2 separate regions of the Homo sapiens genome follow, and region 2 is linked to region 1. Evidence: fine-mapped expression QTL. A gene starts in region 1. The other region holds a variant in brackets. All regions are shown on one strand. Distances are from middle to middle. Region 1 holds the start of DNMT1 (DNA methyltransferase 1). Region 2 overlaps DNMT1 (DNA methyltransferase 1).

Region 1 (4,383 bases):
AATTTCACTTCCATTCCATTTTAAATCAAGTTTTATTTTGGGAGAATACTGGCACAGATGATTCAAGAAGATATATACCCACTAACTGGTTAAGAAGTGGTTTGACTATAATCCCAGCACTTTGGGAGGCTGAGGCAGGTGGATCACGAGGTCAGGAGTTCGAGACCAGCCTGACCAACATGGAGAAACCCCGACTCCACTGAAAACACAAAAATTAGCCAGGCGTGGTGGTGTGCACCTGTAATCCCAGCTACTTCGGAGGCTGAGGCAGGAGAATCACTTGAACCCTGAAAGTGGAGGTTGCAGTGAGCCGAGATCACGCCACCGCATTCCAGCCTGGGTGAAAGAATGAGACTCCATCTCAAACAAACAAACAAAAAAAAGTAGTAGTTAAGGCATGATGGCTCATACTTGTAATCCTAACCTTTGGGACACAAAGGCAGGAGGACTGCTTGAGGGCAGGGGTTTAAGACCAGCCTGGGCAATATGGTGAAACCTCACGTATACAGAAACAAAAACTAAGAAAGTCATCTGGGCATGGTGGTGGGCGCCTGTGGTCCCAGCTACTCAGGAGGCTGAGGATCCCTTAAGCCCAGGAGTTCAAGGCTACAGTGAGTTATAATTGTGCCAGGGCACTCCAGCCTGGACAACAGAGTGAGACCCATCTCTAAAAATAAAAAGTGTTTCTTTTTTTGAGACAGGGTCTCACTCTGTCACCCAGGCTGGAGTGCAATAGCGCGATCTCAGCTCGCTACACACAGCCTCAACCTCTGGGGCTCAAGTGATACTCCCACCTTAGTCTGTTGAGTAGTTGGGACCACAGGCGCACGGCACTACTCCAGGCTAATTTTTGTATTTTTAGTAGACATGGGGTTTTGCCTTGTTGCCCAGGCTGGTCTCAAACTCCTGGCTCAAGAGATTCGTCCGCCACTGCCTCCCAAATTGCTGGGATTACAGGCATAAGCCACAGCACCCAGCCTTCAAAAAAAAAAAAAAAAAGAAAAGAAAAAAAGCGGGGGTTGAACCAAATATCCATCCCTCCCCAAAGACCCAAATCAGAACCGGACTGGCCCAACCAGGTCAGTTAACAAGCCTAAGGAAATAGAAAAATGGCAAAGAGTGCTTTCACAAATCCAGCTGGAAGTGTCCACGCCTGGTGAGGGTTCCTCTGACTCACGCACACCTCACTTGAACAAGTTTTCAGGAATGAACTGATGGCGTTCATGAACAAGGGGCTGGGACCAGTGCTCCCACTGATCCTTGTGCACGGAAGTTGGACAGAGGCATGAACTGCTAAAGCCAGGGCCTCCAACATTAGACACACACTAAAGAACACACCCATGAACACACACAAACACACACGAAAGTGTAGCCAGTTCTCATTAGCAAGACTTCCCTGATGCCCACGGCTCACAGGCACAGATTTACAGGAAAAGACCAACCATGCAGCCTTCACGCTTCCCGGGCCCTGCGCTGCAATGCACGGTTAAAGTTCCTGCCAAAACATGGACTTTCCCAAGGAGCAAGAACCACACAGTCCCAACTGACAGAATGAGTACCCCACGGAAGGCTGGGCTCTCGAACATGAGCCAGCCCAGCCCAGGCCCCGACGGGTGACATCCGTCTCTGGAGGCCGCCATCGAGATGCACAGCTTTGGGGGAAAGGCACTGAGGGACCCCCCACCACAGAAGCGCCCCCGGGGACCGGGCCGGACACCGGAAGTGGAGGCCGAAGTGCCGGTGCCCGAGGGGTGTCCGTTGGCCGCGGGCTGCCCACTTCCTGTGCGACCAAGCTGGAGTCAAGAGCCCGGCCCACCGCTGCTTGAAGAAGGGGACCCCGGAAACGAACCCAAAGCTTGCTGTATTTGGGGATCAAAAGAGAACCCCCACCCCGCCTAGTTTCTAGCCACCAGGGAGCTACGGGGGAATCCACGGTCCATTTTGGCGCCAAACAGCCCGGGCACGCGCGACCGGAAGTGCCACCCTGCCCGCGCCAACTGCCGCTGCGCGCCGCACCACCCCACGCATGCGCGCCCGTCTGTCAGCAGCGGCCACCGGCCACCCCGAGGGGAAGCGACCCCCCACCCAGCGCCCTGCCTGTCCCCCTGAGTCCGTGTTCCCCCCCATGGTACCTACCGCCTGCGGACATCGTCGGGCAGCGAGATGGCCGGGACGGCCAGTGTGGGCACCCGGGCTGGGGCGGTACGCGCCGGCATCTCGGAGGCTTCAGCAGACGCGGCGGCGGCAGCGCAGGCGCCCCGGCTTTTCGCGCGGAAACCGATGGGGAGGGGCGATGAGCGGAGGCGGCGTCTACCACCCCAGTCCGGGCGTGGGGGAGGAGGGGATGTACCAAACGGAGAGAGGCGATACCCTGTGCAGAAGGATGGAACGGAGCCGGCCATGCCCAGGGAACACGCATGCGCAAGGCGGGCACACACCCCCCCCACGCGGAGCAGTGGGCTCGTCCAAGCTCCACGGTTTGCTGGGAGGTGGGCACGGTGCCCGAGGCATTCATTCATTCATTCTTTCAGGTGTGATGGGGATAAAGCAGCGAGAAGCCCCCAAGGGTTTGTGAGAGCCCTTGAGTAAAGTCCTCAGTTCCAATCCAACCTCCATCTATTTGCTGGCTATACGACCTTAGGTGGGTCACTACGGCTCAGCCTCTGTGTCCTCATCTGTAAAACGGGGTAATTGCACCTACTCTAGAAAATCTTGAGTATACACAGAATTTGTAGCTAGTACCAAGAATCTCACAGTGTATAGAGGCCCATGCCACTTCTATACCCAGTGTGTGGGGGGTTTTTTGTTGCCTTTTTTAAGCACCACGTGGCTCACGCCTGTCATCCCAGCACTTTGGGAGGCCAGGGTGGGAGGATCGCTTGAGCCCAGGAGTTTTAGACCAGCCTAGGTAACATAGAGAAACTGCATCTCAAAAAAAAAAAAAAAGAAAGAAAGAAAGAAAGAAAAAAAGAAAAACAAAAATTAGCTAGTCGTTGTGGCATGTGCCCATAGTCCAAACTACTCCAGAGGTTGAGGCAGGAAGATCACTTGAACCGGAGAGGCAGAGGTTGCAGTGAGCCATGATTGTACCACTACATTCCAGCCTGGGAGACAGAGCAAGACCTTGTCTCAAAAAAATAAAAATAAAAAGTAAGAATAAATTAAGAAGCACCATGTCAGGCGCAGTGGCTCACGCCTGTAATCCCAGTGCTTTGAGAGGCCCAGGTGGGAGGATCGCTTGAGGTTAGGAGTTCAAGACCAGCCTGAGCAACATAGGGATACCCCATCTCTACAAAAAATACAAAGATTTGCTGGGCATGGTGACACACACCTGTAATCCTAGCTACTTGGGAGGCTGAGGTGGGAGGATGGCTTGAACCCTGGCAGTGTAGGCTGCAATGAGCCATGATTGGGCCACTGGACTCCTGCCTGGGCGACAGGGTAAGACCCTGCCTCACTCTGTCACCCCGGCTGGCGTGCAGTGGTGAGATCTTGGCTCACTGCAACCTCTGCCTCCCAGGTTCAAGCGATTCTCATGCCTCAGCCTCCCTAGTAGGCTGGGATTACAGGCGTACTCCACCACGCCTGGCTAATTTTTGTATCTTCGGTGGTAGAGACAGGGTTTCACCATGTTGGCCAGGCTAGTCTGGGACTCCTAGCCTCAAGCAGTCCACTTGCCTCAGCCTCCCAAAGTGCTGGGATTATAGGCCTAAGCCACCGTAACCAGCCAGAATTTTTTTTTTTTTTAAAGCACCAGAACATGGGGGAAAGATTGTGTCTTTAACAAATGGTGCTGAGAAAACTGTATAACCACATACAAAAGAATGAAGTTGGACCCTTACCTTACACCATATACAAAAACACAAAACTTATTAAAGATTAAACATAAGACCTGAAACTATAGTGCTCCTAGAAGAAAACATGGGGAAAAGCTTCATGACAATGGATTTGGCAATGATTTCTTGGATATGACAGCAAAACACAGGCAACAAGACAAAAGATAGACAAATGGGTTTGCAACAAACTTAAGGATAGCTATACAGCAAAAGAAATGACCAACAGTGAAAAGGCAACCTACAGAATGGGGAAAAAAAAAGTTTGCAAACTGTATTATCTGGTAAAGGGTTAATATCCGGAATATATGAAAAATTACAGCCAGGCATGGTGGTTCATGCTTGTGATCCCTGCACTTTGGGAGGCCCGGGTAGGCAGATCACTTGAGCCCGGTAGTTTTAGACCAGCCTGAGCAACATGGCAAAACCTCGTCTCTACCAAAAAAAGAAGAAAAAAATTATATAAAAAATAAATTACTACCCGTCAGGCTTGGTGGCTCACGCCTGTAATCCCAGCACTTTGAGAGGCCAAGGCGGGTGGATCACCTGA
Region 2 (4,383 bases), 23 kb before region 1:
TTGGCGGGCGCCTGCAGTCCCAGCTACTGGGGAGGTGGAGGCAGGAGAATGGCGTGAACTTGGGAGGCAGAGCTTGCAGTGAACCGAGATCGTGCCACTGCACTCCAGCCTGGGCGACAAGAGCGAGATTCCGTCTCAAAAAATAAATAAGTAAATAAATAAATAACCCCGTCTCTACTAAAAATACAAAAAAAAATTAGCCTGGCGTGGTAGCAGGTGCCTGTAGTCCCAGTTACTCGGGAGGCTGAGGCAGGAGAATGGCGTGAACCTGGGAAGCGGAGCTTGAAGTGAGCGGAGATCGCACCACTGCACTCCAGCCTGGGCGACAGAGTGAGACTCCGTCTCAAATAAAAATAAAAAAAACGCTTAGCAAATCTTCCTACTACAAGAAGAAATCCTGAGAGTATGCTTACAGGTGAGGGATTTCGATCTTGCCCCAGGTTCCTTCTTTGGAAGGTGGTGGTTGAACTAGCCCGTTAGGACTGCTTGTTCTGAAACAAATTCGAGGTATGCACTGACTGCAACTGCTGTCTAATTTAACTAGGATCAGGGTAGGAAAGGTGATCAATGAAAGACCAGCCTCGGCCGGGCGTGGTGTTTCACCCCTGTAATCCTGGACTTTGGGAGGCTGAGGTGGGTGGATCACCTGAGGTCAGGAGTTCCAGACCAACCTGGCCAACACGGCAAAACCCTGTCTCTACTAAAAATACAAAAATTAGGCGGACGGGGTGGCGGGCGCCTATAATCCCAGCTACTGGAGAGGCTGAGGCAGGAGAATCGCTGGAACCCAGGGGGTGGAGGTTGTAGTGAGCTAAAATTGCGCCACTTCACTCCAGCCTGAGCGAAAGAGCAAAATTCCATCTCAATTAAAAAAAAAGAAAAAAAGCAAGAAAGACCAACCTCAAGTACTGAATGGTTCAAAAATTATTGTACAGCGGCCGGATGCAGTGGCTCACGCCTGTAATCCCAGCACTTTGGGAGGCCGAGGCGGGTGGATCACCTGGGGTCAGGAGTTCGAGACCAGCCTAGCCAACATGGTGAACCCCTGTCTCTACTAAAAGTACAAAAAGTTAATTAGCTGGGCGTGGTAGCGGAAGCCTGTAATCCCAGCTACTCGGGAGGCTAAGGCAGGAGAATTTGTTTGAACGCAGGAGACAGAGGTTGCAGTGAGCCGAGATCACACCACTGCACTGCAGCCTGGGCAAGTAGAACAAAACTCCGTCTCAAAAAACAAAAAAAATTACTGTACATTTTAGTTGATTCCCCAATGGACAGCCATCCTTTACTAAGCTCCCAAGTAAGGCACTCGTCACCTACCTAAGTTGGTAAGAAACTTCTAGTCATCTTGGTTTTTTTTTGTTTGTTTGTTTTGTTTGTTTGTTTGTTTGTTTTAAGACCAGTCTCACTTTATCATCCAGGCTGGATTGCAGTGGGACAATCATGGCTCACTGTATCCTCAGCCTCCTGAGCTCAAGTGATCTTCCTGCCTCAGCCTCCTGAGAAGCTGGAACTACAGGCACACTGCCTGTTGTAAGCTCCACCACATCCAGCTGATTTTTGTATTTTTTGCAGAGACGGGGTCTCACTACATTGCCCAGGCTGGCCCTGAACTCCTGAGCTCAAGCGATCCACCCACCTCGGCCTCCCAAAATGCTAGAATTACAGGCATGAGCCACCACACCCGGCCCTCAGTCATCTTATTAAAAAACAAAACAAACAGAAAAAAAAACAGGACCCAGCATCTGTATTGCATAGAACCTTAGACTCAGATTTTACAAAGAAGATGAGGGACTGGGGAAAGAGCTGGTCTGACTTCAGAGAGGAGAATACAACTTTATGTCTGGATGATGCTAAAGAATTTTAGCACCTCCTACATCTGAAAATTAGATCTTCACCAAGATCTCGTCAGCCAGAGAAGGTGGCTGAGGTGACAGACTGAAACTGACTAGTTGATTTAAGTAGCATAGGTTGGCCGGTGTGGTGGCTCGTGCCTGTAATCCCAGCACTTTGATGGCTGAGGCAGGTGGACCGTTCGAGGTCAGCAGTTTGAGACCAGCCTGGCCAACATGGTGAAACCCCGTCTCTACTAAAAACACAAAAATTGGCTAGGCGCGGTGGTTCACGCCTGTAATCCCAGCACTTTGGGAGGCCGAGATGGGAGGATCACGAGGTCAGGAGATCAAGACCATCCTGGCTAACGTGGTGAAACCCCTTCTCTACTAAAAATACAAAAAATTAGCCGGGCATGGTGGCAGGCGCCTGTGGTCCCAGCTACTCGGGAGGCTGAGGCAGGAGAATGGTGTGAACCCAGGAGGTGGAGCTTGCAGTGAGCGGAGATCAAGCCACTGCACTTCAGCCTGGGCGACAGAGCGAGACTCCGTCT[C/CAAAT]AAATAAATAAATAAATAAATAAATAAATAAATAAATAAATAAAAACACAAAAATTAGCCAGGTGTGGTGGCAGGCGCCTGTAGCCCCAGCTAGTTGGGAGGCTGGGACATGAGAATTACTTGAACCTGGGAGGCGGAGGTTGCAATGAGCCAAGATCGCACCTCTGCACTCCAGCCTGGGTGATAGAGCGGGAGACTGTCTCAAAAAAAAAAAATTAAATTAAATTAAATAAATACCACAAATAAGTAGCAAAGATCCTCGCTATGACAACCTCATAACCCACCTTCCATGTAGAGAACTACAAAAAAATAAGTTTGAAAAGTATTTTAGGCCGGGTGTGGTGGCTCACGCCTATAATCCCAGCACTTTGGGAGGCCAAGGCAGGTGGATCACCTGAGATTGGGAGTTCAAGACCAGCCTGATCAACATGGAGAAACCCCATCTTTACTAAAAATACAAAATTATCTGGCTGTGGTGGCAGGCACCTGTAATCCCAGCTACTCAGGAGGCTGAGGCACAAGAACCCGGGAGGCAGAGGTTGCGGTGAGACAAGATCACACCACTGCATTCCAGCCTGGGCAACAGAGCAAGACTCCATCTCAAAAAAAAAAAAAAAAAAAGTTTTAGCACCTCGTACGTCTGAAAATTAGATCTTCACAAAGATCTCATCAGCCAGAGAAGCAAGAAGGCGAGGTGACAAACTGAAGCTCTGTGACTAGTTGATTAAGTGGCATAGGTTGGCCGGTGTGGTGGCTCATGCCTGTAATCCTAGCACTTTGGTGGCTGAGGCAGGTGGATCACTCGAGGTCAGGAGTTCAAGATCAGCCTGGCCAACACAGTGAAACCCCATCTCCACTAAAATTAGCCGAGTATGGCGGCGGGCGCCTGTAGTCCCAGTGACTCAAGAGGCTGGGACATGAGAATCACTTGAACCTGGGAGGCAGAGGTTGCAACGAGCCGAGATCGCACCTCTGTACTCATTCCAGCCTGGGTGACAGAGTGGGAGACTGTCTCAAAAATAAATAAATAAATAAAATAAAATAAAATATCACAAATAAGTAGCAAGGGTCCTCACTATCACAATCTCATAACCCACCTTTCATGTAGAGACCACGAGAAAACAAGTTTGAAAGGTGTTTAGCCAAAGTCAAAGGCATTTCGATCACTAGCAAAACCCATCTTGTTCTTCCACGTTCCCCACCCCCTGTCCCCACGTCCTGGAAGGAAATTGGGACCATATAGGATTAAGGGAGAATTAACAAACTTAGAGGTGATAGAGCTTTACTTTTTCATCTCTTTCTTCTTCCTTTTCAGTGCGCGTTCCTGATTTTGCTCTTTCAGGTTCTTCTGCAGGAAGCGGTCTAGCAACTCTGTCAAGCAAAATAACACAGACCCCAAGTGTGAGTGCCAGGAGCTTCCCCAAAGAAGCAGTTTTCATAAAGCTCCTCTTTCCCCCAAAAGCAATCTTCATTATCTCAGGAGCCCTGACAGACACATACTCATTTAACATTTAGTATTTGATATGACTTTTACACCTGGTTCGAATGCCAGCTGCCCTCGATTCATTCCTTCCAAGAAAACAGGAGAATTCTACTTGAATCTAAACGCTAATGATCTGACCCCAAATTCAGATACTTCATAACGATATGGTTGCCATGGAAACACACGATAAAGTTCTTCTTTTTAAACTTTTTTTTTTTTTTTTGAGATGGAGTCTTGCTCTGTCACTCAGGCTGGAGTGCAGTGGAATGATCTCAGATCACTGCAGCCTCTACCTCCTGGGTTCAAGCAATCCTTCTGACTCAGCCTCCTGAGTAGCTGGGATTAAAGGCACATTCCACCACGCCCAGCTAAGTTTTGAATTTTTAGTAGAGACGGGGTTTCGCCATGTTGGTCAGGCTGGTCTTGAACTCCTGACCTCAAGTGATTCGCCCATCTTGGCCTCCCAAAGTGCTGAGATTACAGGCATGAGTCACCGTGCCCGGCCTTAAACTTTCTG

The links. PIP is the estimated chance that this variant, and not a neighbour inherited with it, causes the effect.
Region 2: its variant is the best candidate, but not a certain one, in a credible set for the expression of DNMT1 in whole blood (INTERVAL, PIP 0.63).

The regions. Positions count from the first base shown.
Region 1 is chr19:10,192,684-10,197,066 of GRCh38, forward strand. DNMT1 (DNA methyltransferase 1) reads right to left here and starts at 2,270. Exons shown (of 41, transcript NM_001130823.3): 1 at 2,137-2,270. The coding sequence starts at 2,216. RefSeq lists a silencer at 1,974-2,213 and an enhancer at 2,474-2,703.
Region 2 is chr19:10,169,421-10,173,803 of GRCh38, forward strand. It overlaps DNMT1 (DNA methyltransferase 1), which reads right to left. Exons shown (of 41, transcript NM_001130823.3): 9 at 3,670-3,754. Among named protein-coding and RNA genes, the nearest start is that of DNMT1, 23 kb to the right of the region's middle. The variant C/CAAAT (reference allele first, on the strand shown) is at 2,384.